2 linked regions of the Homo sapiens genome follow. Each later gene encodes a partner of the first gene's protein in a complex. Each region holds a gene or a part of one and is shown in the gene's direction. Other genes may lie near its edges. The genes, in order: LY96 and TLR4.

The links.
Region 2: the proteins of LY96 (region 1) and TLR4 are in contact, whole or in part, in a crystal structure (PDB 4G8A), measured with the Homo sapiens proteins. Residues at the interface, in NP_056179.4 of Homo sapiens: Met40, Tyr42, Ile66, Pro67, Arg68, Arg96, Ser98, Asp99, Asp100, Asp101, Tyr102, Ser103, Phe104, Arg106, Leu108, Lys109, Gly110, Glu111, Thr112 (codon at 7,600), Thr115 (codon at 7,609), Thr116 (codon at 7,612), Ile117 (codon at 7,615); in NP_612564.1 of Homo sapiens: Gln39 (codon at 6,875), Met41 (codon at 6,881), Glu42 (codon at 6,884), Asp60 (codon at 6,938), Ser62 (codon at 6,944), Phe63 (codon at 6,947), Asp84 (codon at 7,010), Ser86 (codon at 7,016), Arg87 (codon at 7,019), Thr110 (codon at 10,747), Gly111 (codon at 10,750), Val132 (codon at 10,813), Val134 (codon at 10,819), Glu135 (codon at 10,822), Asn156 (codon at 10,885), His159 (codon at 10,894), Ser183 (codon at 10,966), Ser184 (codon at 10,969), Asp209 (codon at 11,044), Leu212 (codon at 11,053), Arg234 (codon at 11,119), Val259 (codon at 11,194), Glu262 (codon at 11,203), Phe263 (codon at 11,206), Arg264 (codon at 11,209), Asn265 (codon at 11,212), Glu266 (codon at 11,215), Arg289 (codon at 11,284), Ala291 (codon at 11,290), Tyr292 (codon at 11,293).

The regions. Positions count from the first base shown.
Region 1 is NC_000008.11:74,019,192-74,035,053, forward strand, and holds the end of LY96 (lymphocyte antigen 96 isoform 1 precursor), read left to right. Parts: intron 1-7,597; coding exon 7,598-7,650; intron 7,651-7,775; coding exon of another isoform or gene 7,776-7,970; exon of another isoform or gene 7,971-9,494; intron 9,495-9,764; coding exon 9,765-9,863; 3' UTR 9,864-9,888; downstream 9,889-15,862. UniProt on the Homo sapiens protein: Binds bacterial lipopolysaccharide (LPS). Cooperates with TLR4 in the innate immune response to bacterial lipopolysaccharide (LPS), and with TLR2 in the response to cell wall components from Gram-positive and Gram-negative bacteria.
Region 2 is NC_000009.12:117,701,710-117,717,571, forward strand, and holds the start of TLR4 (toll-like receptor 4 isoform A precursor), read left to right. Parts: upstream 1-2,693; 5' UTR 2,694-2,763; coding exon 2,764-2,856; intron 2,857-6,489; exon of another isoform or gene 6,490-6,609; intron 6,610-6,853; coding exon 6,854-7,020; intron 7,021-10,679; coding exon 10,680-12,939; 3' UTR 12,940-15,862.

The DNA.
Region 1 (15,862 bases):
AAGAGAGAAGAATCAAATAGACGCAATAAAAAATGATAAAGGGGATATCACCACCGTTCCCACAGAAATACAAACTACTATCAGAGAATACTATAAACACCTCTATGCAAATAAACTAGAAAATTTAGAAGAAATGGATAAATTCCTGGACACATACACCCTCCCAAGACTAAACCAGGAAGAAGTCGAATCCCTGAATAGATCAATAACAAGTTCTGAAATTGAGGCAATAATTAATAGCCTACCAACCAAAAAAAGTCCAGGACCAGACAGATTCACAGCCAAATTCTACCAGAGGTACAAAAAGGAGATGGTACCATTTCTTCTGAAACTATTCCAATCAATAGAAAAGGAGGGAATCCTCCCTAACTCATTTTATGAGGCCAGCATCATCCTGATACCAAAGCCTGGCAGAGACACAACAAAAAAAGAGAATTTTAGACCAATATTCCTAATGAACATCGATGAGAAAATCCTCAATAAAATACTGGCAAACCAAATCCAGCAACACATCAAAAAGCTTATGCGCCAAGATCAAGTTGGCTTCATCCTTGGGATGCAAGGCTGGTTCAGCATACACAAATCAATATACGTAATTCATCACATAAACAAAACCAAAGACAAAAATCACACGATTATGTCACTAGATGCAGAAAAGGCCTTCGACAAAATTCAACAGCCTTTCATGCTAAAAACTCTCAATAAACTAGCTATTGATGGAACGTATCTCAAAATAATAAGAGCTATTTATGACAAACCCACAGCCAATATCATACTGAATGGGCAAAAACTGAAAGCATTCCCTTTGAAAACTGGCACAAGACAGGGATGCCTCTCTCACCACTCCTACTCAACATAGTGTTGGAAGTTCTGGCCAGGACAATAAGGCAAGGGAAAGAAATAAAGGGTATTCAATTAGGAAAAGAGGATGTCAAATTGTCCCTGTTTTCAGATGACATGATTGTATATTTGGAAAACCCCATCATCTCAGCCCCAAATCTCCTTAAGCTGATAAGCAGCTTCAGCAAAGTCTCAGGATATAAAATAATGTGCAAAAATCACAAGCATTCCTATACACCAATAACAGACAAACAGAGAGCCAAATCATGAGTGAACTCCCATTCACAATTGCTACAAAGAGAATAAAATATCTAGGAATCCAACTTACAAGGGTTGTAAAGGACCTCTTCAAGGAGAATTACAAACCACTGCCCAACGAAATAAAAGAGGACACAAACAAATGGAAGAACATTCCATGCTCATGGATGGGAGGAATCAATATTGTGAAAATGGCCATACTGCCCAAGGTAATTTATAGATTCAATGCCATCCCCATCAAGCTACCAATGACTTTCTTCACAGAATTGGAGAAAACTACTTTAAAGTTCATCTGGAACCAAAAAAGAGCCTGCATTGCCAAGACAATCCTAAGCAAAAAGAGCAAAGCTGGAGGCATCATGCTACCTGACTTCAAACTATACTACAAGGCTACAGTAACCAAAACAGCATGGTACTGGTACCAAAACAGAGATATAGACCAATGGAATAGAACAGAGGCCTCAGAAATAACACCACACATCTACAATCATTTGATCTTTGACAAACCTGACAAAAACAAGCAATGGGGAAAGGATTCCCTATTTAATAAATGGTGCTGGGAAAACTGGCTAGCCATATGTAGAAAGCTGAAACTGGATCCTTTCCTTAAATCTTATACAAAAATTAATTCAAGATGGATTAAAGACTTAAATGTTAGACCTAAAACCATAAAAGCCCTATAAGAAAACCTAGGCAATATGATTCAGGACATAGGCATGGGCAAGGACTTTATGACTAAAACACCAAAAGCAATGGCAACAAAAGCCAAGATAGACAAATGGGATCTAATTAAACTAAAGAGCTTCTGCACAACAAAAGAAACTGTCATCAGATTGAACAGGCGACCTACAGAATGGGAGAAAATTTTTACAATCTACCCGTCTGACAAAGGGCTGATATCCAGAATCTACAAAGAACTTAAACAAATTTACAAGAAAAAATCAAACAACCCCATCAAAAAGTGGGCAAAGGATATGAACAGACACTTTTCAAAAGAAGACATTTATGCAGCCAAGAGACACATGAAAAAATGCTCATCATCACTGGTCATCAGAGAAATGCAAATCAAAACCACAATGAGATACCATCTCACACTGGTTAGAAAGGCGATTGTTAAAAAGTCAAGAAACAATAGGTGCTGCAGAGGATGTGGAGAAATAGGAATGCTTTTACACTGTTGGTGGGAGTGTAAACTAGTTCAACCATTGTGGAAGACAGTGTGGCAATTCCTCAAGGATCTAGAACTAGAAATACCATTTGACCCAGCCATCCCACTACTGGGTATATACCCAAAGGGTTATAAATCATGCTACTATGAAGACACATGCACACGTATGTTTATTGCAGCACTATTCACAACAGCAAAGACTTGGAACCAACCCAAATGTCCATCAATGATAGACGGGATTAAGAAAATGTGGCACATATACACCATGGAATACTATGCAGCCATAAAAAACGATGAGTTCATGTCCTTTGTAGGGACATGGATGAAGCTGGAAACCATCATTCTGAGCAAACTATTGTAAGGACAGAAAACCAAACACTGCATATTCTCACTCATAGGTGGGAATTGAACAATGAGAACACTTGGACACAGGGCAGGGAACATCACACACCAGGGCCTGTCATGGGGTGGGGGGCTGGGGGAGGGATAGCATTAGGAGAAATACCTAATGTAAATGACTAATTAATTGGTGCAGCAAACCAACATGGCACATGTATACATATGTAAGAAATCTGCACATTGTGCACATGTACCCTAGAACTTAAAGTATAATTTAAAAAAAAAAGAAAAGAAAAGAATGGAAGGTATGAGCAAGATATGAGCTTTCTTGGCAGGCACAGTGGCTCAAGCCTGTAATCCCAGCACTTTGGGAGGCCGAGGCGGGCAGATCACTTGAGGTTAGGAGTTCCAGACCAGCCTGGCCTACATGGTGAAACCCAGTCTGTACTAAAAATACAAAAGTAGATGGGTGTGGTAGCACATGTTTGTAATCCCCGCTACCACCCGGGAGCCTGAGGCAGGAGAATCACTTGAATGAAGGCAGAGGTTGCGGTGAGCCAAGATCCCACCACTGCACTCCAGCCTGGGCTACACAGTGAGACTCCAGTCTCAAAAAAAGAAAAACCAAAAAAAAAGATAGCTTTCTAAGACAGACAAAACAATTGAAAAACAAAAAAAAAAGGGTTCTATCCAACAGAAGAGGTTAGAACTCCTTCCACCTACCTGAACTGCTAAGTGTTAGGACAGTCTCCCTTAATAGAAATCTAGGGTTTTTTCTTTTTTTCTTTTTTTTTTTTTTTGTGACAGGGTCTCGCCCTGTCGCCCAGGCTGGAGTGCAATGGCGCAGTCTCAGCTCACTGCAACCTCTGCCTCCCAGGTTCAAAAGATTCTCCTGCCCCAGCCTCCCCAGTAGCTGGGATTATAGGTGCATGCCACCACGCCCAACAACTTTTTTTGTATGTTTAATAGAGATGGAGTTTCACCATGTTGGCCAGGCTGGTCTCAAACTCCTCACCTCGTGATCAGCCCACCTCGGCCTCCCAAAGTGCTGGGATTACAGGCGTGAGCCACTGTTCCTGGTCTAGTGGTTGTTCTTAATTTCTTTCTCATATCCTCAAGTCTCATCCATCTTCCTCCCCTGCCCCTTACACAAAGTTTACAGAGTTGGCTTTATGACCAGAGTCCAGGGCCCCATATACGGAAGGGCCCCATGCTTGGGGTTTAATGCCCTGTGATCATAGTCTTGAAATTCTTAATAATTTTATCTTTGAGTGTGTGTTTTGTGTAAGTGAAATCTAATGAGATGATGAGGTATGAACCCACCTTCCCTGGACCGGTTCTTGGTTCCCGCTGCCCACTTCCCTGCTGGCACCATGGGATCCCCTCCCCTCTTCTGTCCAGTGCAACCTGCTACCCTCTGCTCCTGGTGAAATCCTGGCTACAGGGAGGGTCAGGATCCGGTGTGGGTGCCCTGCAGTATCTTGGGTGGGCATGACAGTGGCTGCCCTACCTGGGCTGGCAGCACCACAGCCCTGTTCAGCAGCTGACTAGTTGGGCACACCATCCCCTGCCCCACCCCGAAACAGGTAGTGTGTGGAGGTATTGCATGGAGGTTGCAGTGCGTTGAGAGTCACTGTTGAATAGCAGGCCTGTGGGAAAGAAAGGTACTTGCTTGGACTTCCTGCCTCTCACAGGAGCATGGGGCATCTGGCAGTTTGTGGAAGGAGGACGCTGACAGGCAACTCTCAGGCCCAAGCTTGCACAGGAGCCCCCAGTCGTGGAGGAGCCCCTGGGTGTTTCTGCACTCACCTATGCTGCTTGCTGAGGGGTCATTCCCTCAGGCTGTTCCATGTCTTGGGGACCTTCTCTTTCTCCGTTCAAATTTCCTGCCTCTGGCTTGTGTTAGTTTCCTCTGGCCAGCTCGAGGCACCCTCTGGGGTTGAGCAGGGAAAGACAAATTATGTAATCTCCGTGATTCTACCTTGAAGTTAAATGCTTTAATATTTGCATTTAAAACTGGCATTGTATTATAAAAAGATGAATAGTGAAATTCATACTAACAGTTTAAAATGTTCTCTTTATTACAAATGATATTAAATTGCAATAAAAACATTATGGCAAGTCTAGAGAGAGAAACACACAGAAGAAAGGAAAAAGTTTTATGTTCTAGTAACTTTAACAGGTTTCCCCCATCTTTTGAATAAGCAGCCTCATATTGTCATTTTGTGCTGGGCCTTGAAAATTATGTATTTAATTATGTAATGATGTATTGCATTACTTTTCATGGCAAAAACTGCAATTACTTTTACACCAACCTAATAGTTGATCCTGAAGCTGGGTACTGAGAATTAGGTGCTAGGTGCCAGATATCCAAATATCCAAAGCAAAACCCCGGTCCTCATGGAGATTATAGACTAGTGGAGAAAACAAGATCCTAATGAAGTAATAAAATAAAGAAAAGCAGAAAAATGAAATATGATTCAATTTGTGATAAATACTCTCAAAGAAACAAGCAAGTTAATGAGATAGAGCCTATTATTATTATATTATTATATAATATATACATATATGACTAATATATTAATGCATTAATATTCACAAGGTATGAATATGTTATTATTCACAAGATGCCATTGGAAGGAGGGTCTAGAAGGGAGAAGGAATAATATTAAATGTTATAAGTAACATTTAATGGTAATAATATTTAATAAGTGCTATGTCCTAGGCATTGTTCTTAGCACTTAACATGTATTAACTGGTATAGCCCTTGTAATAATCCTATGAGATACGTGTTATCGCCCATCAGCATTTTACTGAGGCATAGAAAAATTAAGTGACTGGCCTAAAGTTACACACCAAGTAGAGGAGCTGGGATTCAAACCCAAGCCGTTCTGGCCCCAGAGCCATCACTCTTACAAAGATGTTATCTTTATCCTTACTGCATCTTTCTCATTGCATATTGTATTTGGAATGGTTTCTTCTTATCATTTTAGGGGTCTTTTTTTGGTTTTTAAAAATTTTAATTTTATTTTAATTTAATGTATTTATTTTGAGACAAGGTCTCCCTGTCACCCAGGCTGGAGTGAAGTGGCACGAACACAGCTCACTGTAGCCTCTACCTACTGGGATCAAGTGATCCTCCCACCCTAGCCTCTCGAGTAACTGGGATTATAGGCACATGCACCACACCCATCTTTCTTTTATATATTTTGTACAGATAAGGCTTCACCATGTTGCCCAGGCTGGTCTTGAACTTCTGGGCTCAAGGGATCTACCCTCTTTGGCCTCCCAAAGTGTTGTGATTACAGGCATGAGCCACCGCTCACAGCTGGAATGGTTTCTTAAATATCTATATCTCCAATAGACTTTAGCTCTTTGAGAGAAGGGACAGAGTTGTACTACCATTGTCTTCCCAGGCCCTGGTGGGTAGTAGGCTTTCAATAAGTGAGTTGTTGAACTGTTAAATTTTGAATTGGATTGGCCTTGAATGAAAGATCATAAGATTATGAAGACATGATCACTTTACTGAGCTCAAGAAACACCTCAGGTATCAACTCCTTTAGTAAGGATACACCCGGCTAGGTGTGGTGGTTTATGTCTGTAATCCCAGCACTTTGGAAGGCCGAGGCAGGCAGATCACCTGAGGTTAGGAGTTCAATACCAGCCTGGCCAACATAGAGAAACTCTGTCTCTACTAAAAATACAAAAATTCGCCAGGCGTAGTGGTGGGTGTCTGTAATCCCAGCTACTGGGGAGGCTGAGGCAGGAGAATGGCGTGAACCCAGGAGGCGGAGCTTGCAGTGAGCCAAGATTGTGCCACTGCACTCCAGCCTGGGCGACAGAGCGAAACTCCGTCTCAAAAAAAAAAAAAAAAAAAAAGATACACCCTTTATCTGCTTTAAAGAAAGAGCAAAAAGAAAAGAAAAGACAGCTGGGCGCAGTGGCTCATGCCTGTAATCCCAGCACTTTGGAAGGCCAAGGCGGGCAGATCGCCTGAAGTTGGGAGTTCGAGACCAGCCTGGTCAGCATGATGAAACCCTGTCTTTACTAAAAATACAAAAATTAATCGGGTGTGGTGGCAGGCGCCTGTAATCTCAGCTACTCAGGAAGCCGAGGCAGGAGAATCTCTTGAACCCGTGAGGCAGAGGTTGCAGTGAGCTGAGATCACGCCATTGTACTCCGGCCTGGGCAACAGAGTGAGACTCCATCTCAAAACAAAGAAACAAACAAAAACAGAAAGAGGATACATCCAGAAGTAAATAAATAAATGCTTACTTGTGAGACTAGAAGTATACATGCAGACATTAATTATTTACTTCTGAGAACAATATTATAGTTTTTGATTTAACTATATTAAAAATATTTTTGGCCACTGTTTCTTTTGTTTGAGATTCAAAACATACATTTCTATCTTTACCCCACCACATTCACTACTTTGTTCTGACTGGAACAGTAGGATGTGCATTTTTCTGCACTTTTGACTCTGTGCTCCACAGCTTGTGTGGGGCCAGGCCCGTGGCTATGCACTTAAACAGAAGCTAACTTGAGCTTCTCAGTGGTGTAATTGGGAGGAGCTTCAGTATTCTGGCTGCCTCCAAAATATCTCATCTGTCTTTGCAAGATTGTTCTCTATTATACCCAGCTTAATGTGCATCAATATCTCTGAAAACTAGTTTGCAATGCACATATGTAACTTGTTCTGAAGCATATTAGCACTAGCTTGTTCATCGTTTATTCATTATTGAGACCAGCAGGTCTTAATAGTTTGTGTCCCCTAAGGGATAAGGTAGGGGCAGGTGTACAGAGAGGCTCTAGGGGCGGAGAAAGGAAGCCACAGGAGAATAGCAGCCAGGGTATAAAAGATTCATTATTTTTCTACAGTTTTGCTTGGGACTGCGTCTGTCAGTAGTTAAGGTATACTCCATGCTACCAAGAAAAAAATATCACCTAACCGTGACCAATAACGTTTTGTATTTTATATTTTGTTTGCAGAGACTGTGAATACAACAATATCATTCTCCTTCAAGGGAATAAAATTTTCTAAGGTATTGTTCAAGATTTATTTTGTACTGTCTAACCTTTAGCAGTAATAGACATGTTAAGCATTTGAAACAAGCAATTCACAACTTCTTCCTTTTTCTTTCTTTTTTTTTTTTAAATGGGATCTCAGTCTGTTACCCAGGCTGGAGTGCAGTGGCACGATCTCTGCTCACTGCAACCTCCACCCGCCAACCCCCACCCCAAGCAATCCTCCTGCCTTAGCCTCCTGACTAGCTGGGACTACATGTCCATGCCACAATGCCAGCTAATGTTTTGTACTTTTGGAAGAGACGCGGTTTCACCATGTTGCCCAGGTTGGTCTTGAATTCCTGAGCTCAAGCGATCCACTCCGCTTAGCCTCCCAAAGTGCTGGGATTACAAGTATGGGCAGTTGTGCCCAGCTGACAATTTCATGAATAGCAGTTCGAGATTAAGATGTTCAGGGTTTTTTCTTTCACTTTTATTTAGAATTAGCTTTTTTTTTTTTTTTTTAACTGAGTCTTGCTCTGTTGCCCAGGCTGGAGTGAAGTGTGTTCTGGACTCACTGCAACTTCCGCCTCCCAGGTTCAGGTGATTCTGTGCCTCAACCACCCGAGTAGCTGGGATTACAGGCACATGCCACTATGCCCAGCTAATTTTTTTATTTTTAGTAGAGATGGGGTTTCACCATGTTGCCCAGGCTGGTCTCAAACTCCTGGCCTCATGTGATCCACCCACCTTTGTTCCTGGACCAAACTGAGGGTCGGGCTGCCATTTCTCGCAGCCCAATAGCAAGATGCAGATGAACTGGGGAGGAAGAGAGCTTTTATTTCTGTAACTGGTTACAGGGAGAAGGTCTGGAAATTATCGCCAGACCAACTCAAAATTACAAAGTTTTCAGAGCTTATATACATTCTAAGGTATATGTCTATGTGTAAGTGTGCATTCATCTGAAGACACAAGTGATTAACTTCTTTTAATCTATAATTAAGGTCTGAGTCCTGAAGACCTTCATCTGGAGCCTCAGGAACTTTACTTAATCTAAATGGGTCTGGGTGCTGGGGTGATTACCTTTATCTTGTCTCCTGCTAAATCATGGAGGTTTGAGGAGTTCCTTCAGACCCCCAGTAAACTTGGTTGTGGAAGCCTGGGGAGTTTCTTCGGACCCACAATAAAACTCGATTGATCCTAAATGGGTCCTATTAAGAATTTCTTAGTTATTTTGTTATGGTTTAAGAAAGCCTTAAAGGAAGGGCCTGGGCAAAACTCCTGATGGGCTTTTGTTACATCCCATCCTTTGCATAAGGGCGCTGGCTTTAAATATTTAACTTAACCACTCAGTACTGAAACAGTTGTTAGTGAGACCTGGCCTTGGCCTCCCAAACTGCTGGGATTATAGGTGTGAGCCACCACACCCAGCCTTAGTATTAGGTCTTTTGGTATTTTTTCTTTCTGTAGACTATGGAAAAATTGCACAAAACATAGCATTTTTTTCCGCTTCATTTTTTTTTCCCTCTAACATACATGGGCAAAAGTAATTTGAATGCAAGTGCTCATTACTAATCTGTTGAACAGTCTTCAGATGAAAGCACTGGATGACCATTGTGTATAAGCCAGTAAATCTCTATAACTATTCATGTAAATATAATGTGAACATTGTTTAGGAGAATAAAAATCACATAAATTACAGACTTTTTTTGTTCAAGATTTTTTTGGGAACTTAGTCTGGTCATCCATGCCTTTGTAAAAATAATTGCTGCCTCAATGAATAATACCATTGTGATTCTAGATATTTGCGTGACATATCTAGTAATGAGATTTTATGCATTTTACTTATGGTGACCATTTTAAAATAAAATTTAATAATGCATATTCTTTCATTATTTTGTTATAAACTAATATCTAATATTTCAAAACCTCTTAGGTTAGTTTTTAAAAATAACATAATCTTATAATTGGGAAATAAATGGGCTTTATGCTCATTTAATTCAAAGACATGGAAAATTTCGTCTCATTGGAAAACTATAAAATCAATCCAATTTAAATGGCTTTCTGCTAGTAAGAGAAAGTTCTTACAAAGCCTCTGAAATAGTAGCATCTAACATTTTGTATTACTTGTATTTCTTATACTTCATTTTAGGGAAAATACAAATGTGTTGTTGAAGCTATTTCTGGGAGCCCAGAAGAAATGCTCTTTTGCTTGGAGTTTGTCATCCTACACCAACCTAATTCAAATTAGAATAAATTGAGTATTTAAAAAAAAATTTAAAGGTATTGTTCCTGTTTTAAGGGTACCCAGGATTTGTTTTAATCAGATATGGTAGGATAGGAAGACACAGAAATGACTGTCATGAAGAAAGAAGCTTATCCTCACAGATCTCTAGGAAACGGAGGCATGGTGCATCATGCAGAGCCACCTGGGGAAGCACCAGTGTCTGTGAGAATGTGGAGGGAGGGGAAGAATGTGGGCAAGAGTGTTTGTTATGTTTTCCACAGGAAGCAATGGGCAAGGTAGGGTAAGTAATTGATATGGTTTGGCTGTGTCCCCATTCAAATCTCATCTTGAATTGTAGTTCCCATAATCCCCACATGTCATGGGGGACCCAGTGGGAGGTAATTGAATCATGGGGATGGTTACCTCCATGCTGTTCTCATGATAGTGAATGAGTTCTCATGAGATCTGATGGTTTTATAAGGAGCTTTCCCCACCCACCCCTTTTGCTCTGCACTTCACCTTCCTGCCACCATACGAAGAAGGACGCGTTTGCTTCCCCTTCTGCCATGATTGTTTCCTGAGGCCTCCCCAGCCCTGCAGAGCCGTGAGTCAGTTAAACCTCTTTCCTTTATTTTATTTATTGTTTTGAGATGGAGTCTCACTCTGTCACCCAGGCTGGAGTGCAGTGGCACCATCTCGGCTCACTGCAACCTCTGCCTTCCAGGTTCAAGTGATTCTCCTGCGTCAGCCTCCCAAGTAGCTGGGATTACAGGCACCTGCCATCACACCTGGCTAATTTTTGTATTTTTAGTGGAGATGGGGTTTCACCATATTGGTCAGGCTGGTCTTGAACTCCTGACCTCAGGTGATCGGACTCCCAAAGTGCTGGGATTACAGGCATGAGCCACTGCGCCCAACCTAAACCTCTTTCCTTTAGAAATTACCCAGTCTTGGGTATTTCTTCATAGTAGCGTGAGAATGGACTAATACAGCAGTGTTGACCTAAAAGGAAGAAGCTGAGACAGAATTAGTGTAAGTAGAGAGTTTATTTGGGCCAAGCTTGAGGACTGCATCCTGGGAGCATGGCAACTTGAGTTGCCCTGAATATATACTCCATAAATTAGCAGCAGTTACAAGAGGGTTTTTAAAGGGAAAGAAGAGGGAGTTTCTGAGTTGTTTACCAAGAATTTACATTAAAAAGGCTGGGTGCAGTGGCTCACACCTGTAATCCCATCAATTTGGGAGGCTGAGGCGGGCAGATCACCTGAGGTCAGGAGTTTGAGACCAGCCTGGCCAACATGGTGAAATCCTGTCTCTTCTAAAAATACAGAAATTAGCTGGGCCTGGTGGCATGCGCCTGTAATCCCAGCTACTTGGAAGGCTGAGGCAGGAGAATCGCTTGAACCCGGGAGGTGAAGGTTGTAGTGAGCCAAGATTGTGCCACTGCACTCCAGCCTGGCGACAGAAGTGTTTTTGGTGAAGTTTATAGAAACAAAAGGATGGGGTCTTTTCTGCTTGGAGACCCCTCTCTCTATATAGAGAAAGCTGTTTCTCTTTCTCTTCTCTTCTGCCTATTAAACCTCCACTCCTAAACTCCTCGTGTGTGTTTGTGTCCTAAGTTTTCCTGGTGAAAGATGACAAACCCTGGGTTTATACTCCAGACAACGTAGCAGCTTCATATTGGAGGTTCATCTGGGATACCAAAGTACAACATTCATTGAAACGGTGAGCAGAGGAGCAGACTCCAACTCTGTCCTTACATTTCAAGGCTGTCAGCCTCCATTTAAGAACCAAATCAAACCAACTACTGGGCCACCTTCAGCCATTTAAAAATGATTAGCATGGCTGCCAGCCTTATAAGACTTGGAGGACAGGCTTTCTGGAGAGAACATGGAGAATCCCCGAGTACCCATGGGTTGTTGGGCATATTGGCCCTGTTTGAACCAGCTTACTTTCAGAGAGGACTTAGCTGTTGCATGGGGCTGGAAGAGGTTTTGGAGCAACTGAGGATTTCTGGCTGGGGCTACCCCCGTGTTATCCAAAGGCTTCTGGACTGACCCCAGCTTCCGACCACCTGATAGGGTGTCAGTAATAGGATTGCCACCTTTCCTATTGTAATTTCCTCCTTTCCTGTCCATGACCACCATATCTCTCATCCTCTCTGTATGAAATCCGGAGTATATGCCGCCTGCTGGTCTTTTCCACTTGGAGACTATTTCTCTTTCTTTTCTCTTCTGCCTATTAAAACTCTGCTCCAAAATAACAAAAAACAAAAAGACACAAGGATGTGTTTTTTGCTAAAGAAAATGTAATTTTGCTGGGTGTGGTGGCTCACGCCTGTAATCCCAGCACTTTGGGAATCCAAAGCGGGCGCATCACAAGGTTAGGAGTTCGAGACCAGCCTGGCCAGTATGGTGAAACCCTGTCTCTACTGAAAATACAAAAATTAGCCGGGTGTGGTGGCGGGCACCTGTAGTCCCAGCTACTCAGGAGGCTGAGGCTGAGGCAAGAGAATTGCTTGAACCCAGGAGGCGGAGGTTGCGGTGAGCCGAGATCGTGCCACTACTGCACTCCAGCCTGGGCGACAGAGTGAGACTCTGTCTCAAAAAAAAAAAAAAAGTAATTTTTTTTTAGTTAAGTGACTATTTAAGAGTTGCTTTAGAGTAAAGGAAAAATTATACAGATAAAACTAAATGGATAAAGAGAAAAACTAAGCCCAGGCAACAAAGTTACCTCTGAGACCTGTGGTTACCAAGAAGACAGTCAATGTGGAGGAAGGGCAAAATGAAGCAACCATTAAAACCAGAGGGTAGCCAGGCATGGTGGCTTCTGCCTGTAATCGCACCACTTTGGGAGGCCGAGGTGGGTGGGTCACCTGAGGTCAGGAGTTCCAGACTAGCCTGGCCAAGACGGTGAAACCCTCATCTCTACTAAAAATACAAAAATTATCTGGTAGTGGTGGCGCACACCTGTAATCCCAGCTACTTTGGATGCTGAGGAGTGAGAATCTCTTGCACCCAGGAGGCAGAGGTTGCAGTGAGCCGAAATTGTGCCACTGCACTCCAGTGTGGGTGGCAGAGCAAGATCCTGTCTCAAAAAACAAAAACAAAACAAAACAAAAAAACAACCAACCAACCAAACATAAAACCCGAAAAGCCACAGGGGATTGTGTAAATGAATTGTTCCATTTTGTAGATTGGTATCATCATCTCCCTGAGAAACCTTTACTACAATTAAGGGAGGAGACCACCCCTCATATTGTCTTATGCCCAATTTCTGCCTCCAAAGGAAGAAGAAGTAAAAACTAAAAGGCAGAAATGAAATCCACAGGCAGACAGCCCGGCGTGCTGCGCCCTGGGCCTGGTAAAGATCAACCCCTGACCGATTCCAGACATTGTATGGAAAAGCATTGTGAAAATCCCTGTCCTGTTCTGTTCTGATTACCTGTGCTTGCAGCCCCCTGTTACGTACCCCCTGCTTGCTCAATCGATCACGACCCTCTTACGCGGACCCCCTTAGAGTTGTAAGCCCTTAAAAGGGACAGGAATTGCTCAGTCGGAGAGCTCGGTTTTTGGAGACGTGAGTCTGCCCGGTGCTTCCAGCTGAATAAAGCCCTTTCCTTCCACAACTTGGTGTCTGAGGGGTTGTTGTCTGCAGCTCATTCTGCTACACAATAAATTGTAAAAATAACTACTTTAAGGATAGAATCCTTAATTTTAAATGCTACAGAATGAAAGAGCTTGATTGGGTTGATGCAGGACCCACAGCTCACTATTAAACAATTGCTGGTGAATGTGTGTGATCCAAATACACAGGAGGTGATTCCTGAGGGAACAACCAGCCTAGTGTTTATCCTGAGAAGGAGATTGCCCAACTCTCCCTATAAAATGCCAAGTGGAACACCCCAGATGAAGCAGTTGATATGCTTCATATGCAAGCCATGTGGGACTGGCTTTATGATGACCCAAATATTCTCCAACAAAAATTTCTATTGCCCACATCATGGTAAATTTTGGGGTTTAGGGGGCCCTTTTTACATGGGCACCCTGGGTGACATTACTCCGGCAGAATCATACGACTATTTGAGCAGCCTTATCAAGTTTGCTGTCTCTTGTGGGTTTTACAGATGCTTAATAAAATATCAGGCATAATTAACAAAAAAAAAGATGGGTAAGGAGAAAGGGATTAAAAGAGCTCACCCCAGAACAGTGATATAATTTTTTGGATGGTTATTAAGAAAAGAAAGAAATAAAATGAAAATTGAGGGAGTTAAAACAAAGGCCTTTAAAACACTATTTGCCCCTAGATTGGAAAATATAAGAAAAATCCAAAGACAATGGTTATAATGAGAATGCTACGTTGCCTGGGGCAATACTGAGGCAAATTAAGATAAAGATTGACAAAAGGGACTGAGTCCTTTGGCCCAACCCCCTGCTGGGGGCCCATATCCTTTTGATATAGGGTCTTGCTCCCTGACGAATGCAAGGAGGAGAATACTTATGAGCAGGGGGCCTCTTTTTCCCCTAGGACTGATTCTAACTTTATAGAAGCTGCTAGATTCTGCAGTGCCTGATAGACAGCTCCCATCTAACCAGAGCTGTTTCACTTGTGAAGTTCGAAGGTGAACAAAGGACATCTTGTTTGGAAGGCTGCTGCTGTGGTTAAAGAGGAGTCAAGCAAATCTTTTTCTTTTGAATTATTTATTGTTTAGAGCAATTAAGTGAAGAATGTTTTTGTGAGCAAGTTTACTTTTCTCTCTGAGCTCTCCAGAATTCAGAAACTGTTCATGGGTATTCTGATTTTATGACAATATAGTTATTTGCATAAGTGTAGTAAGATTCGTTTCTTTCAAAACAGGACAATTGGAGACTTTTTTTTTTTTTAAACCAGGGCTTTGACTAGAATAACATATTTTTAGGCAAATTTCCAGCAAAGCCAACTTAAAAGGAACCTATGTGGCCAATTAATTCTTGCTGCACTTTATGTGAATAATCAGGCCAAGTATAGTAAGCCTAAAACTTATTTTGCACATACATTGGTCTTACTATAATTTCTCTTTAGGCTGGGTGCAGTGGCTCACACCTGTAATCCCAGCACTTTGGGAGGCCAAGGTGGGTGGATCACTTGAGGCCAGAAGTTTGATCAGCCTAGCCAACATGGAGAAACCTCATCTCTACTAGAAAATACAAAAATTAGCCAGGTGTGGTGGTGCATGCCTGTAATCCCAGCTACTCGGGAGGCTGAGGCATGAGAATTGTTTGAGCCTGGGAGATGGAGGTTGCAGTGAGCCAAGAACATGCCACTGCACTCCAGCCTGGGCAATAAAGCGAGACTCTGTGCCTTAAAAAAAAAAAAATTCTTTAATAGAAAAGGAGAACCAGAGAAAGAGGTTGTTTCAAAGAAGTGTAACACTTTTTATTAGATTTCAGCCCCAACTTTTGTTTTTGAGTGCAGATTGAATCATGAATTATATAATTCTCTAAAGAGTGCCAGGTTATCATTTTTCTTCTTATTTTTAGTTGGTGCCTTAATGGAATAGGTTCCTTTTTCTGTTCTGACACATAAATACTCTTTTGATTTTCAAAAATATTGTTATTTATTTTTCCTTGTTTTACCTCCAAGGAAACCAGAATCATGGTATTCTGAAGAGTAGAGATGCGAATCTCCCTCATTTGGCATCACACTGGGTCCAATTTGTTTTTCACTGAAAATGCCCCGCTGCTAAGACTATACAAACACCCTCCTTCTAGGCCCGGGGACTGTCACAGAAGGGGTGAGCATGTGAGATTGTAAGGGCCAGTTTTGAGGGATAGAATTAAGTCAAGGTCAGATCCTCCAAATCAAGGATGGGTACAAAGATGCCTAAACAGCCAGTAAAACAAGGGACTTTGCCTACTGAGCTGTTATGTGACACATTTTCTAATTCCCGTAGAATTAAAGGAAGATAATTACTGACAGGATAAAGATACCTTGTGACAAAGCCTCCTGGGTACAAAACTCCCAGTTATGAGTTGCGAAGATAT
Region 2 (15,862 bases), on another chromosome or scaffold:
CGTCAGGAGGCAGAGGGAGCAAGAGGAAATTATAGGCACAAGCTTTTATTGTTGTTACTGCAGAAAAGGCAAGGCAAGGCAGGGTAAGCAGGGATAGGACTGGCTAGTTTGAATAACCTCAGTGGGCTCTGGGGTAGAGGGTCTGTCTCTAGTTGTCTGGTACCTGGACCTGTGATGATTAGGGCTGAATAACGGTGTCTACTTGGGTGTAAAAGCCAGGTAGAGGAGGTGGTTCAGAGGAAGGGCTCTGGATTGCTTAGTGTGCATAAGGCATGCTCCAGAGCAAATCTTTTGCTATTTTTTAGAACTAACTAGCCCTGGTAAGTGCAGTCTCTTCCCAGATGCCAGAACATCAAGAACACAGAAAAGAAGACAATTGGGTTAATACATGTTTAGCATGAGAAATGAGGAAGTAAGGGAAATAAAGTCAAAGAGATTTCCACCTTGGATGACTATGTCAAAGTGAAACACCATTAACTTTCCAGGGAACTAAACTTTATTGAGCACCTACTCTGTGTCAGGCACTGCTCTAAAATCTTTACATGAATAATCTCAATACTCAGAGCAAAGCTTTGACATGGAGGTTGTTTTTATCTTAACTCTACTGGTGTGTTGATGGAGTCTACAAGAGTTTGTGCCCAGTCCACCACAAAATGGTCCCTCACAGCTTGGTTTTTGACACGTTGGATTGGAAGTGCTTGGAGGATATTACAGTAGAACTATCTAGGACTTAGCATGCATAATATTCCTGTTTTAAATCAGGTTCTTATTTAACAGAAACTTACATTGCACTTGCTACTTTCCAGACACTGTCCTAAAAGCTTTACAAATGCCAGTTCATTTAATCCCAATACAATACTTTGAGATACATATTATCATCTTCATTCTATCCACATTTTCAATCCTCATCATAGCTCTCATTTATGGAATGTAATGATGATGCTCTAGACTAGACGTTTTACGTAAGTTAGCTTAATTCAGTAATTCAAAACACATGCGATTATCTTCGTTTTAAAGACCAGAAAACTAAAGGTTGGTAGGTTTGTATAATTTGACTACCATTGCGTATCTTTATTTTAATACATTTTATAAATGCAAGCTTCTGCTATGATTAAAAGTGATTACCACATTTTACAGACCAGAAAGTAATAATAAGTGTTGGTGAAGATGTGAAAAAATGAGAACTCCTGTACACCATTTGTGGGAATGTAAAATGGTACAGATGCTGTGGAGAATCATATGGTGGGTGCTCAAAAAATTAAAAATAGATTTACCACATGATCCAGCAATCTCACTTCTGAGTACGTATCCAAAAGAATTGAAAACAGAGACTTTAAGAGATATTTGTACAACCATGTTTATGGCAGCATTATTCACAATAGCTAACGTGTGGCAACAATGCAAGTGTCCATGAACAGACAAATGGATAAGCAAAATGTGGTCTATACATACAATGGAATATTGTTCAGCTTTAAAAAGGAAGGAGGCTTTGATCTATACTACACAGAAAAGAACCTTGAGGACATTATGCAAAGTGAAATAAGCCAGTGACAAAAAGATACATACTGTATGATTCCACTTCTAAGAGCTGCCTAGAGTAGTCAAGATTATAGAGACAAAAGTAGTGCATAGATTCAAGGGCCTAGGGAAAGGGGAAATGGGGAGTTATTTATTAATGAATAGTGGTGATGATTGTACAAAAATATGAACATAATTAATGCCACTAAATTGTACACATACAAATGGTCAAGATAATAAATTTTATGTTATGTCATGTTATGTTATGTGATTTTACCATAATACAGAAAATGAAAAAAGAAAAGAAAGAAAGTAAAGCTTAGCGGTTTACATGACTTGACCAATGCCTCAAAGCCATGAGTCACCCAGCTGAGATCTGAACTTCAGTATATTCCATTCTGAAATCCCAGACTTTTCCCAATCTTCTTGTACTTTTCAAACTGTGTTTCAGTTGAGGTTTATTTTCAGTTTTGTATGTGAGTTTCTTCACAAGAAGGGGCGGGCCAAATTGTGTCCTGCAAAAACCTACATATCGAAGTCCTAACCCCTCTACCTCAGACTATGACTGTATATGGAGAGAGAGCCTTGAAAGAGGTATGTAAGGTAGAATGAGGTCATTATGGTGGGCCCTAATCCAACATAACTGGTGTCCTTATAAGAAGGGGAGATTAGAATTCAGACACACTTGCTGACACCTTGAGTTCAGACTGGAAGCCTCTAGAATTGTGAGAAAATGAATGTCTGTTGTTTAAGCCACCCAGTCTGTGGTATTTCCTTATGGCAGCCCCAGCAAACTAATACAAATAGTGTTTCCACAGCTGAAACAAAATTGGAAAATCACCGTCATCCTAGAGAGTTACAAGGGCTATTTTAATAGAACCTGATTGTTTTCCTAAATTCACCAAGCCCAGGCAGAGGTCAGATGACTAATTGGGATAAAAGCCAACTAGCTTCCTCTTGCTGTTTCTTTAGCCACTGGTCTGCAGGCGTTTTCTTCTTCTAACTTCCTCTCCTGTGACAAAAGAGATAACTATTAGAGAAACAAAAGTCCAGAATGCTAAGGTTGCCGCTTTCACTTCCTCTCACCCTTTAGCCCAGAACTGCTTTGAATACACCAATTGCTGTGGGGCGGCTCGAGGAAGAGAAGACACCAGTGCCTCAGAAACTGCTCGGTCAGACGGTGATAGCGAGCCACGCATTCACAGGGCCACTGCTGCTCACAGAAGCAGTGAGGATGATGCCAGGATGATGTCTGCCTCGCGCCTGGCTGGGACTCTGATCCCAGCCATGGCCTTCCTCTCCTGCGTGAGACCAGAAAGCTGGGAGCCCTGCGTGGAGGTATGTGGCTGGAGTCAGCTCCTCTGAACTTTCCCTCACTTCTGCCCAGAACTTCTCACTGTGTGCCCTGGTTTGTTTATTTTTGCAAAAAAAAAAAAGAGTTAAATTACCTTAAAGACTCAAGAAGCCACAGAGATCAAATAATTCATTGTTACAGGGCACTAGAGGCAGCCATTGGGGGTTTGTTCCATTTGGAAATTTTGAGTGCTAACAGGGGCATGAGATAACATAGATCTGCTTAAGGTCCCTGCTCTGCTACCTTGTGGCTCTGTGAAGAAATTATCAAACCTGTCTGAGACTAGTTTTCGCATCTGTAAGAGAATTATAATACCTTCTTCACTAGAGAGTAAGCAGACTGCTTCAGTGTCATTTCTTCCCACTGGTGGTCTTTACACTCAGCTTCAAGCAGTCACCCTGCTCCTTTCAATCTCAGGAAAAAGATGGCTTTTGTGTGTGTGTCTCTAGAGAAAGAACTTTCTAAGTGGGTGTCAGACTTCTGTATGCAGTAATATAGTTTAGTCCAGAGGATGAAAAAAATAAGAGAATGAAAAAGGAAAAGAGAGAGAGAGAGAAGAAAAAAGCAAGAGGGAAATATGTATAATGTCAGCTAATGCAACAGTTTCTTTCTTAGTGAAATACCAATCAGCTGGTTGGTAATCTTATTCATGATGGATCTCTTTTGTTTTTCCCCTGCGCAGACTTCACAGTTGCTTTAGAAACCCATAGTAGAGCCGAACAGCTAAGAAAATGATTTACAGTGAGGCAGGGTCAGAAACTCAAGAGAGAAAAAGCCAGCTGCAGTCCTGAAGTTGAGGATATAGGAGAAAATCAAGTAATATTTAGCAAAGACTAATTCATTATCTTGAAGCCATCCCTTCCCTCAATTCCCTGCCCATAGTCCTCCTCCTTGTCCTCTTCTCTGTATCCCTCTGCTGTTAGGTTAATGGAGATAGATTTTCTAATTAGGCTCACTGCGAGATAAAACCACAGCCAAACTTGACTTCTTTTCCCCATGTACCTTTTCCTGTCAGTCCCTGAAGCCTGTCCATCCCTGCCCATCCCCTTAGTTCCACTGTAAGGCAGGCCCTCATTTCCCCTGGCATTGACTCTTACACACTAACTGCTTTCCTGATTCCAGTCTTCTTCCTTTAATTCATTCTGCACGTTCTTGTTTGTTATGTACTTGCATTTGTTGTTATTATTTTTCCTTAGGCTTCAATCTAACAAATTACTCTCCTTAAAAACTTTTAATAACTCTCCATTGCCATTAGAACAGCTTTCTACCACAGGGCCTTTGCACTGGCTATTTCTTCTACCTAGAATGCTAGATCAGTGCTATCCATTGGCAATATTATGTGAGCCACATATGTACTTTTAAAGTTTTTAGTAGCCTCATTAAAAAAAGAAACAAGTGAATTTAATTTCGATAATAGTTTTATTTAACTTAGCGTATTTAAAATAATGTTTAAAATTTTAATATATATTTACCTATTATTGATATTTTTACATTCCTTGTTTGGTACTAAGTCTGGAATTTAGTATATGTTTTACATTTACCACACTTCTCAATTTACACTATTCACATTTCTTGTGTTTGATAACTGTGTATGGCTAGTGACTACCGTATTGGTCAGTGCAGCCCAAGTCCTTTTCATGCTTTAATCACTCCATTCAGATCTCTGATTAAATGTCCCCTCCTCAGGGCAGTCTTCCTTGATTGCCCCATGTAGAGCTCTCCAGCCTCACTTATTTGCCTCAAATCCCCTTATACTGCTTAATATTTTTTTTTCTAGAGCACAACATTTTATATTTTTGTTTGTTTATTTTCTCTCTCTCCCTTTGTAATGGAATCGGTAAGGAGGCAGGATCATTGCTGGTTTTATTTACCACTATATTTCCAGTGGCCAGCACACAGTAGCCGCTAGATGTGTAAGTGATAAATGATTGAAATAATTGCTGCAGGACAAAGTCTGAGGCCCTCCTGATCTGGCTTGCCCTCTTACTTAGATTTCACCACTCCCACCACTCACCAGCTAATCTGAGTTTGTTTTCCACTCTTTACGTGCTCACGTTGTCCTCTCCTTAGGACATGTTTTTCTTCCCCTTTCCACATATCTAAACCTTACTCATCTTCCAAGACCCACTTTAAAATCTTCCTTTTCTGGGAAGCCTTTCCTGAATCCAGACTTGATCTCTGCTTTCTCTGAACCACAGGGCATATTTTCTAAGCCTATTTTATGGCCCCTTGAGATAGTGTTAGCTTTGCTCCTATCTAAACTCTTACTCTAGACTGTGAGTCCATTGAAGTCTGGAGCTGCATCATATTTTTCTTTGTAATGCCCACAGCACTTGGCAGGAAATGCCTACAATTTGGACTTAAGTAAACCTTCATTTAATCAGTTATTCAATCAGTTAGTGATTCAGCAAATATTTATTGAGCACCAACCATTTGCCAGACACCATTCTGAGTGCTGGAGACAAAGCAGTGGGCAAACCCATCAAACTTGCAATGGAATACAGGAGATGAACAATACGATGAGAACAATCAGATAGACAACATAATGTTAGATGGTTGTGCTTCCCGTGAAAGGGAATAAAAGAGGGCAAAGAAAGAGTGCCTGGCACTGTTTCTATTAGACAATATTGTCTTTGAGGCTCCATGGCTTGCAACATTTAAGCAGACATACGAATGAAGATCTGCATGTTTGAACTCTGACTTTGCGCATATTACTTCATTTCTTTGAATTTCCATTTTCCTCATCTTTAAATGCTTATTTGAAGATTAAGTGAAAGTATATAACAAACAAGAACTATGCAGGCATATGGTAAGGGATTAATGATAGATGATAATAATTAATGTTGACATCTATTGATCACTTATACTGTAGCGGGCTTTTAAATAAACTCTTTAAACACCTTATCTCATTTAATCCTTCAAACATTCTATTGGTTTCAAACAACAGAAAACTACAATTAGCTGGCTTCTGCAAGGAATTTTGTTGGAGGAAATGAGAGCATTCAGAAATTAGATGGGAGCGTTAGAGAATTAGGCTTACAAAGAATGTGGGAAAGTAGGCTAGAAAGCAGTGTAAAAACAAAGACAGCATAAAGCACTTGACCTTATTTACTAGGTTCCACCATGGGAATCCATGCACTCTAAAGATTTCCCCCTATTTCTACATCACTTTGCTCAAGGGTCAATGAGCCAAGAAAAAGAATGCAGTTGTCAAAATCTGGGCCATGACTAAGGAAGGTCTGGACATCTTGACTGCCAGACAGTCTCCCCAATGATATGGAGTATTTAAAATGATACTGGATATTTTATTTATTTTTTGTATTTTCAACTTTTAAGTTCAGAGGCACATGTGCAGAGCATGCAGGTTTATTACATAAGTAAATGTGTGCCATGGTGATTTGCTGCATAGATCATGAAAATATGGAACGCATCATGGATTTGTGTGTCATCCTTGTGCAGGGGCCATGCTCATCTTCTCTGTATCCTTCCAATTTTAGTGTATGTGCTACTGCAGCAAGCACGATATTGGATATTTTATTACCTACATTTTACATATGATAAAATGAGGCTCACTGAGGTTTTTCTTTTGTTCGTTTTATTTTGTTTTGTTTTTAAAGACTTGGCCCTAAACCACACAGAAGAGCTGGCATGAAACCCAGAGCTTTCAGACTCCGGAGCCTCAGCCCTTCACCCCGATTCCATTGCTTCTTGCTAAATGCTGCCGTTTTATCACGGAGGTTAGAATGCTGAGCACGTAGTAGGTGCTCTTTACTTTCTAATCTAGAGTAAGACAATTTATAAGCATGAATTGAGTGAATGGATGGATGGATATATGGATGGAAGGATGGACAGATGGATGAAAGGTTGACTGAATTTTGTGCTTGCACAAAAAGAGGCCCCTCTCCACCATCTCTGGTCTAGGAGAGGGGAGTTGGGAGACCATGCAGTAAAGATACTTCATGTCATGTGTAATCATTGCAGGTGGTTCCTAATATTACTTATCAATGCATGGAGCTGAATTTCTACAAAATCCCCGACAACCTCCCCTTCTCAACCAAGAACCTGGACCTGAGCTTTAATCCCCTGAGGCATTTAGGCAGCTATAGCTTCTTCAGTTTCCCAGAACTGCAGGTGCTGGATTTATCCAGGTAATGAATCCACTTTTACATACTGCACAAGGTGAGGTGTTCATTGTCCTGTCATTTCATTATTGGACTGGAAAGCTTGGTTTGTGGAGTCTCATCTTCATTCACTTATTCATTCATACAACAGATGTCTTATTAACTATATAACCTTGAGCAAGCTACCTCTATTCTCCAGGTCTCAGTTTTCTAATCTGTGAAGTAGGCAGTTGGCTGAGACAGCTTCTAAGGGCAATTCTAATTTTAGGTTTTCTTTTAAGACAGGAGAGAAAATTAGCTTAAATTCTTTCATAAGCAGCTATTTATTGACTACTTGCTATATGTTGTACACTCTGCAAGAAGACAGGCATATATTGATATATAACACACAGCCCCTGTTGTTAAGGAGGCATATCTTCTTGAAAGAGTTAATACCTTAAAGTCCTGGGTATGGTCCTGGGTACATAGTATATAGTCAACACATTTTAATTATGATTTTTTGGATCTGGAAACTGATATAAAGATAGCGACATATAACAGTAGGTGATAAATTATGTTTAAACTAAAGGTAACTAATTGTATTTTTCAGAAGAGGGGCCTTCTCTGTGGTGGGTAGTCAAGAAAGATTTCATGAACTGCATAAGATTCAAACAATGTCTAGAATATTAAAACTAGTGTACAGGATAGGGAATTAGGAAAAGACAAGTAACCCAAGGAGAAAGATGTCAAGATTAAAGGAAAACATCTGCTGTGGGCAGGGAATAATGGCTAAGATTTTCTTTTCTGATGCAGGGAAGTATATCGTTTGTTGTGGCAGGTGAAATGTCATCTTGATATTTTAGGGGAACCAAATTCTAAAAGGGTTTTCATCATCGGGGCCTTATTTGCAAATCGAACTAGATAATGGATCATGTTCTCTGCAATGGTTTGTAAAACATTTCAAAACATTTTACATATTTTTTATTATAGAAATTATTGATAAAGACTAAGGTCACAGTATAAAAATCCTTTTTAGAGCAGACATTTCTGTAGAAGAGTGAGCATACGACCTATTATACTCTAATTTGGATATAGATAGGATGTAACAAAGGAGTAATGGAACAATTCAAAGGCAGTGGTATAGTGCATAGAGTCCTGTTGGGGTCAGAAGACCTGAGCCAAGTTTACCCCCAACCTTTATAACCATGTAACCTTAGGCATATTACTTCATCTCCCTTAATCTTAGTTTTCATATCTGATCAATGGAAATGATGAAACTTATTCTGCTGGATTAAATGTGATAATAAATATTAATATGCTGTATATATTTAAATTTTTATAAAATATATTTTATAAGCATAAAGTATTCTTACAGAATTTCATTAGGTTTTTAAAATAATTTCAACTTTTATTTTTGATTCAGGGATTTACATGGTTATATTGCGTAATGCTGAGGTGTAGGGTACAATCGATACCATCACTCAGGTAGTGAGCATAGTACCCAATAGTTAGTTTTTCAACCCTTGCTGCTTTCTCTCTATCCCCTCTCTAGTAATCCCCAGGGTCTATTTTTGTCATCTTTATGTCCATGTGTACTCCATGTTTGGATCCTACTTATAAAGTGAGAACTCATGGTATTTGGCTTTCTGTTCCTTTGTTAATTTGCTTAGGATAATGGCTACTAGCTGCATCTATGCCATTATGTTCTAAATTTCAGTTTCCTGCATGAAAATTTTGTCAAGTACTCTATTAAGGTAGACCACCTCTCCCTTTTTTTTTTTTTCAAACAAGAAGTAGTTTTTCACCAAACAATGTCTCTTATGTAATTCATCTTCAATCCACTGGATACCCAATAAACTTGCCCCAGAAACCTTAAATCTGTGCTTACAGAGAGGCCAGCTTCCCTTCTTGTTAACCCATAGGAGATTCTGAATTAGGGCAAGCACAAAAGATAGCACAATAGACATCCTTTGCCTTTTCGTACAGTGTTCACATACAGTAACTCAACTAGTCTTGTAAGAATGCTTTGTGATAGACCAGGCAGCCTTCTTTCCCCTATAGAAATATATATATATTTCTTTTTATAGGTGAGGAAACTGAAGCTTGAATAATTTAAATGACTTATATACATTATCATTGCTTGTTAGCCACAGACCAGAGATTTAAGTTCACATCTCCAGAATCCAACTTAAATGTTTTCTTTGTCTTAATACTCTACTTCTCTAAAGTGATTATCACCAATGTAATGATATAGAGACACAGCAAGACCCTTTCCTTCTCACCTAATGTATAGAGCAATGCAGAGATAGAATGATGGGCTATAACAATCATATAATTGAAAGAAAGAACTTCAAAAATAATCAAGTTCAGCTGTTTGATTTATAAATGTGATAACTAAAACCTAGAGAGGAAAAGAGGTACTCAAGATCACACAGTAGGAGAGGACTGCAGAAACACCAAACCCAAGCTCTTTTGTCCACTCTTCCAGCGTTCTTTCTACTATACTGCCTATCCTTTATCTAGTTACCAATAAATAACAAAAGCTTGGACCACAATGCTTTTATTGTCTAGGAAACTCCTGAAGAAGCTAAATAAAATGGGTGGGGAATATTGTAAATGTAATTCAGGCTGGATTAAGAAAGAACTTATTTGTACATTGTAACTGACAAGCACCTGCAATGCTGAAAGGAATTTTTCATTGGCTTGCTGTTTGCTGGCTGCATCAAAGCCCTGTCTCTAGGACATGTCTCTGAACATTGTGTGTAGCATGGCTTTCATTTCTTTTAGGATAAAATTCAAAACCCTTTATCTGGTTGGTAAACCTCTGCCTAATTGGGAACCTTCTTTCTCCACAACTCCATATTGTACACTCCAATTTCATCTCTGTTCTCCAACCATGGAAGCTATTTGTCATGATTCCTCCTTGTGTCATTTTTTTTCTGTCAACCTTGGGGCTTTTGTGTTTGCTGTTCACTTCACCTCCTTTTATTGTTAACTTCTACTCATCTTTCAATTTTCAACTTAAGTGTTCTCAGAGAAACCTACTTTGATTTTCTTGGTCCACAACGGTTCTCTGGATGTGAACTCTTATAGCACATAATTTTCACTTTTTTCCACAAAACTCGCTCCTATCACCTGTTACAAGCATTTACCTCTGATAACAAGAACTTTCAAATATCTAGCTGTCATGTAAGCACTTTTCATAAACATTAAGAGTATCTGTGACACTTATGTGTAATTTTTCGTATCTCTGAAATTGATATTTACCAGTCATTTATCTTGGCTACCAACTAACAACTATCCATATTATCTGTACCAATCAGATGTATAATCACAATTTTGTGTGACAGAAAATGGCTAAACTTGATCCAAGGCTATTACATGCTTTATCAACTGCACAATCTTTATATATGTCAATTATTGATCTTTAACTGATTTCCTTCTTATGGATTTTCTCCTCTGCTTATCATGTATGCCTAACATGACAAAAAAGAGCCTATCATTGCAGCCAGTATGATAATACTCAGTCTGTGGGGCTTCTTATTTGCTTATTCCATCATCATCTGTCCTGCTTGATGTCTTTGCCTATGCACAATCATATGACCCATCACATCTGTATGAAGAGCTGGATGACTAGGATTAATATTCTATTTTAGGTTCTTATTCAGCAGAAATATTAGATAATCAATGTCTTTTTATTCCTGTAGGTGTGAAATCCAGACAATTGAAGATGGGGCATATCAGAGCCTAAGCCACCTCTCTACCTTAATATTGACAGGAAACCCCATCCAGAGTTTAGCCCTGGGAGCCTTTTCTGGACTATCAAGTTTACAGAAGCTGGTGGCTGTGGAGACAAATCTAGCATCTCTAGAGAACTTCCCCATTGGACATCTCAAAACTTTGAAAGAACTTAATGTGGCTCACAATCTTATCCAATCTTTCAAATTACCTGAGTATTTTTCTAATCTGACCAATCTAGAGCACTTGGACCTTTCCAGCAACAAGATTCAAAGTATTTATTGCACAGACTTGCGGGTTCTACATCAAATGCCCCTACTCAATCTCTCTTTAGACCTGTCCCTGAACCCTATGAACTTTATCCAACCAGGTGCATTTAAAGAAATTAGGCTTCATAAGCTGACTTTAAGAAATAATTTTGATAGTTTAAATGTAATGAAAACTTGTATTCAAGGTCTGGCTGGTTTAGAAGTCCATCGTTTGGTTCTGGGAGAATTTAGAAATGAAGGAAACTTGGAAAAGTTTGACAAATCTGCTCTAGAGGGCCTGTGCAATTTGACCATTGAAGAATTCCGATTAGCATACTTAGACTACTACCTCGATGATATTATTGACTTATTTAATTGTTTGACAAATGTTTCTTCATTTTCCCTGGTGAGTGTGACTATTGAAAGGGTAAAAGACTTTTCTTATAATTTCGGATGGCAACATTTAGAATTAGTTAACTGTAAATTTGGACAGTTTCCCACATTGAAACTCAAATCTCTCAAAAGGCTTACTTTCACTTCCAACAAAGGTGGGAATGCTTTTTCAGAAGTTGATCTACCAAGCCTTGAGTTTCTAGATCTCAGTAGAAATGGCTTGAGTTTCAAAGGTTGCTGTTCTCAAAGTGATTTTGGGACAACCAGCCTAAAGTATTTAGATCTGAGCTTCAATGGTGTTATTACCATGAGTTCAAACTTCTTGGGCTTAGAACAACTAGAACATCTGGATTTCCAGCATTCCAATTTGAAACAAATGAGTGAGTTTTCAGTATTCCTATCACTCAGAAACCTCATTTACCTTGACATTTCTCATACTCACACCAGAGTTGCTTTCAATGGCATCTTCAATGGCTTGTCCAGTCTCGAAGTCTTGAAAATGGCTGGCAATTCTTTCCAGGAAAACTTCCTTCCAGATATCTTCACAGAGCTGAGAAACTTGACCTTCCTGGACCTCTCTCAGTGTCAACTGGAGCAGTTGTCTCCAACAGCATTTAACTCACTCTCCAGTCTTCAGGTACTAAATATGAGCCACAACAACTTCTTTTCATTGGATACGTTTCCTTATAAGTGTCTGAACTCCCTCCAGGTTCTTGATTACAGTCTCAATCACATAATGACTTCCAAAAAACAGGAACTACAGCATTTTCCAAGTAGTCTAGCTTTCTTAAATCTTACTCAGAATGACTTTGCTTGTACTTGTGAACACCAGAGTTTCCTGCAATGGATCAAGGACCAGAGGCAGCTCTTGGTGGAAGTTGAACGAATGGAATGTGCAACACCTTCAGATAAGCAGGGCATGCCTGTGCTGAGTTTGAATATCACCTGTCAGATGAATAAGACCATCATTGGTGTGTCGGTCCTCAGTGTGCTTGTAGTATCTGTTGTAGCAGTTCTGGTCTATAAGTTCTATTTTCACCTGATGCTTCTTGCTGGCTGCATAAAGTATGGTAGAGGTGAAAACATCTATGATGCCTTTGTTATCTACTCAAGCCAGGATGAGGACTGGGTAAGGAATGAGCTAGTAAAGAATTTAGAAGAAGGGGTGCCTCCATTTCAGCTCTGCCTTCACTACAGAGACTTTATTCCCGGTGTGGCCATTGCTGCCAACATCATCCATGAAGGTTTCCATAAAAGCCGAAAGGTGATTGTTGTGGTGTCCCAGCACTTCATCCAGAGCCGCTGGTGTATCTTTGAATATGAGATTGCTCAGACCTGGCAGTTTCTGAGCAGTCGTGCTGGTATCATCTTCATTGTCCTGCAGAAGGTGGAGAAGACCCTGCTCAGGCAGCAGGTGGAGCTGTACCGCCTTCTCAGCAGGAACACTTACCTGGAGTGGGAGGACAGTGTCCTGGGGCGGCACATCTTCTGGAGACGACTCAGAAAAGCCCTGCTGGATGGTAAATCATGGAATCCAGAAGGAACAGTGGGTACAGGATGCAATTGGCAGGAAGCAACATCTATCTGAAGAGGAAAAATAAAAACCTCCTGAGGCATTTCTTGCCCAGCTGGGTCCAACACTTGTTCAGTTAATAAGTATTAAATGCTGCCACATGTCAGGCCTTATGCTAAGGGTGAGTAATTCCATGGTGCACTAGATATGCAGGGCTGCTAATCTCAAGGAGCTTCCAGTGCAGAGGGAATAAATGCTAGACTAAAATACAGAGTCTTCCAGGTGGGCATTTCAACCAACTCAGTCAAGGAACCCATGACAAAGAAAGTCATTTCAACTCTTACCTCATCAAGTTGAATAAAGACAGAGAAAACAGAAAGAGACATTGTTCTTTTCCTGAGTCTTTTGAATGGAAATTGTATTATGTTATAGCCATCATAAAACCATTTTGGTAGTTTTGACTGAACTGGGTGTTCACTTTTTCCTTTTTGATTGAATACAATTTAAATTCTACTTGATGACTGCAGTCGTCAAGGGGCTCCTGATGCAAGATGCCCCTTCCATTTTAAGTCTGTCTCCTTACAGAGGTTAAAGTCTAGTGGCTAATTCCTAAGGAAACCTGATTAACACATGCTCACAACCATCCTGGTCATTCTCGAGCATGTTCTATTTTTTAACTAATCACCCCTGATATATTTTTATTTTTATATATCCAGTTTTCATTTTTTTACGTCTTGCCTATAAGCTAATATCATAAATAAGGTTGTTTAAGACGTGCTTCAAATATCCATATTAACCACTATTTTTCAAGGAAGTATGGAAAAGTACACTCTGTCACTTTGTCACTCGATGTCATTCCAAAGTTATTGCCTACTAAGTAATGACTGTCATGAAAGCAGCATTGAAATAATTTGTTTAAAGGGGGCACTCTTTTAAACGGGAAGAAAATTTCCGCTTCCTGGTCTTATCATGGACAATTTGGGCTAGAGGCAGGAAGGAAGTGGGATGACCTCAGGAGGTCACCTTTTCTTGATTCCAGAAACATATGGGCTGATAAACCCGGGGTGACCTCATGAAATGAGTTGCAGCAGAAGTTTATTTTTTTCAGAACAAGTGATGTTTGATGGACCTCTGAATCTCTTTAGGGAGACACAGATGGCTGGGATCCCTCCCCTGTACCCTTCTCACTGCCAGGAGAACTACGTGTGAAGGTATTCAAGGCAGGGAGTATACATTGCTGTTTCCTGTTGGGCAATGCTCCTTGACCACATTTTGGGAAGAGTGGATGTTATCATTGAGAAAACAATGTGTCTGGAATTAATGGGGTTCTTATAAAGAAGGTTCCCAGAAAAGAATGTTCATCCAGCCTCCTCAGAAACAGAACATTCAAGAAAAGGACAATCAGGATGTCATCAGGGAAATGAAAATAAAAACCACAATGAGATATCACCTTATACCAGGTAGAATGGCTACTATAAAAAAATGAAGTGTCATCAAGGATATAGAGAAATTGGAACCCTTCTTCACTGCTGGAGGGAATGGAAAATGGTGTAGCCGTTATGAAAAACAGTACGGAGGTTTCTCAAAAATTAAAAATAGAACTGCTATATGATCCAGCAATCTCACTTCTGTATATATACCCAAAATAATTGAAATCAGAATTTCAAGAAAATATTTACACTCCCATGTTCATTGTGGCACTCTTCACAATCACTGTTTCCAAAGTTATGGAAACAACCCAAATTTCCATTGAAAAATAAATGGACAAAGAAAATGTGCATATACGTACAATGGGATATTATTCAGCCTAAAAAAAGGGGGAATCCTGTTATTTATGACAACATGAATAAACCCGGAGGCCATTATGCTATGTAAAATGAGCAAGTAACAGAAAGACAAATACTGCCTGATTTCATTTATATGAGGTTCTAAAATAGTCAAACTCATAGAAGCAGAGAATAGAACAGTGGTTCCTAGGGAAAAGGAGGAAGGGAGAAATGAGGAAATAGGGAGTTGTCTAATTGGTATAAAATTATAGTATGCAAGATGAATTAGCTCTAAAGATCAGCTGTATAGCAGAGTTCGTATAATGAACAATACTGTATTATGCACTTAACATTTTGTTAAGAGGGTACCTCTCATGTTAAGTGTTCTTACCATATACATATACACAAGGAAGCTTTTGGAGGTGATGGATATATTTATTACCTTGATTGTGGTGATGGTTTGACAGGTATGTGACTATGTCTAAACTCATCAAATTGTATACATTAAATATATGCAGTTTTATAATATCAATTATGTCTGAATGAAGCTATAAAAAAGAAAAGACAACAAAATTCAGTTGTCAAAACTGGAAATATGACCACAGTCAGAAGTGTTTGTTACTGAGTGTTTCAGAGTGTGTTTGGTTTGAGCAGGTCTAGGGTGATTGAACATCCCTGGGTGTGTTTCCATGTCTCATGTACTAGTGAAAGTAGATGTGTGCATTTGTGCACATATCCCTATGTATCCCTATCAGGGCTGTGTGTATTTGAAAGTGTGTGTGTCCGCATGATCATATCTGTATAGAAGAGAGTGTGATTATATTTCTTGAAGAATACATCCATTTGAAATGGATGTCTATGGCTGTTTGAGATGAGTTCTCTACTCTTGTGCTTGTACAGTAGTCTCCCCTTATCCCTTATGCTTGGTGGATACGTTCTTAGACCCCAAGTGGATCTCTGAGACCGCAGATGGTACCAAACCTCATATATGCAATATTTTTTCCTATACATAAATACCTAAGATAAAGTTCATCTTCTGAATTAGGCACAGTAAGAGATTAACAATAACTAACAATAAAATTGAATAGTTATAATAATATATTGTAATAAAAGTTATGTGAATGTGATCTCTTTCTTTCTCTCTCTCAAAATATCTTACTGTACTGTACTCACCTATTTTCAGACCATAACTGACCATGAAACCTGGGAAAGTGAAACTGTGGATAAGTGAG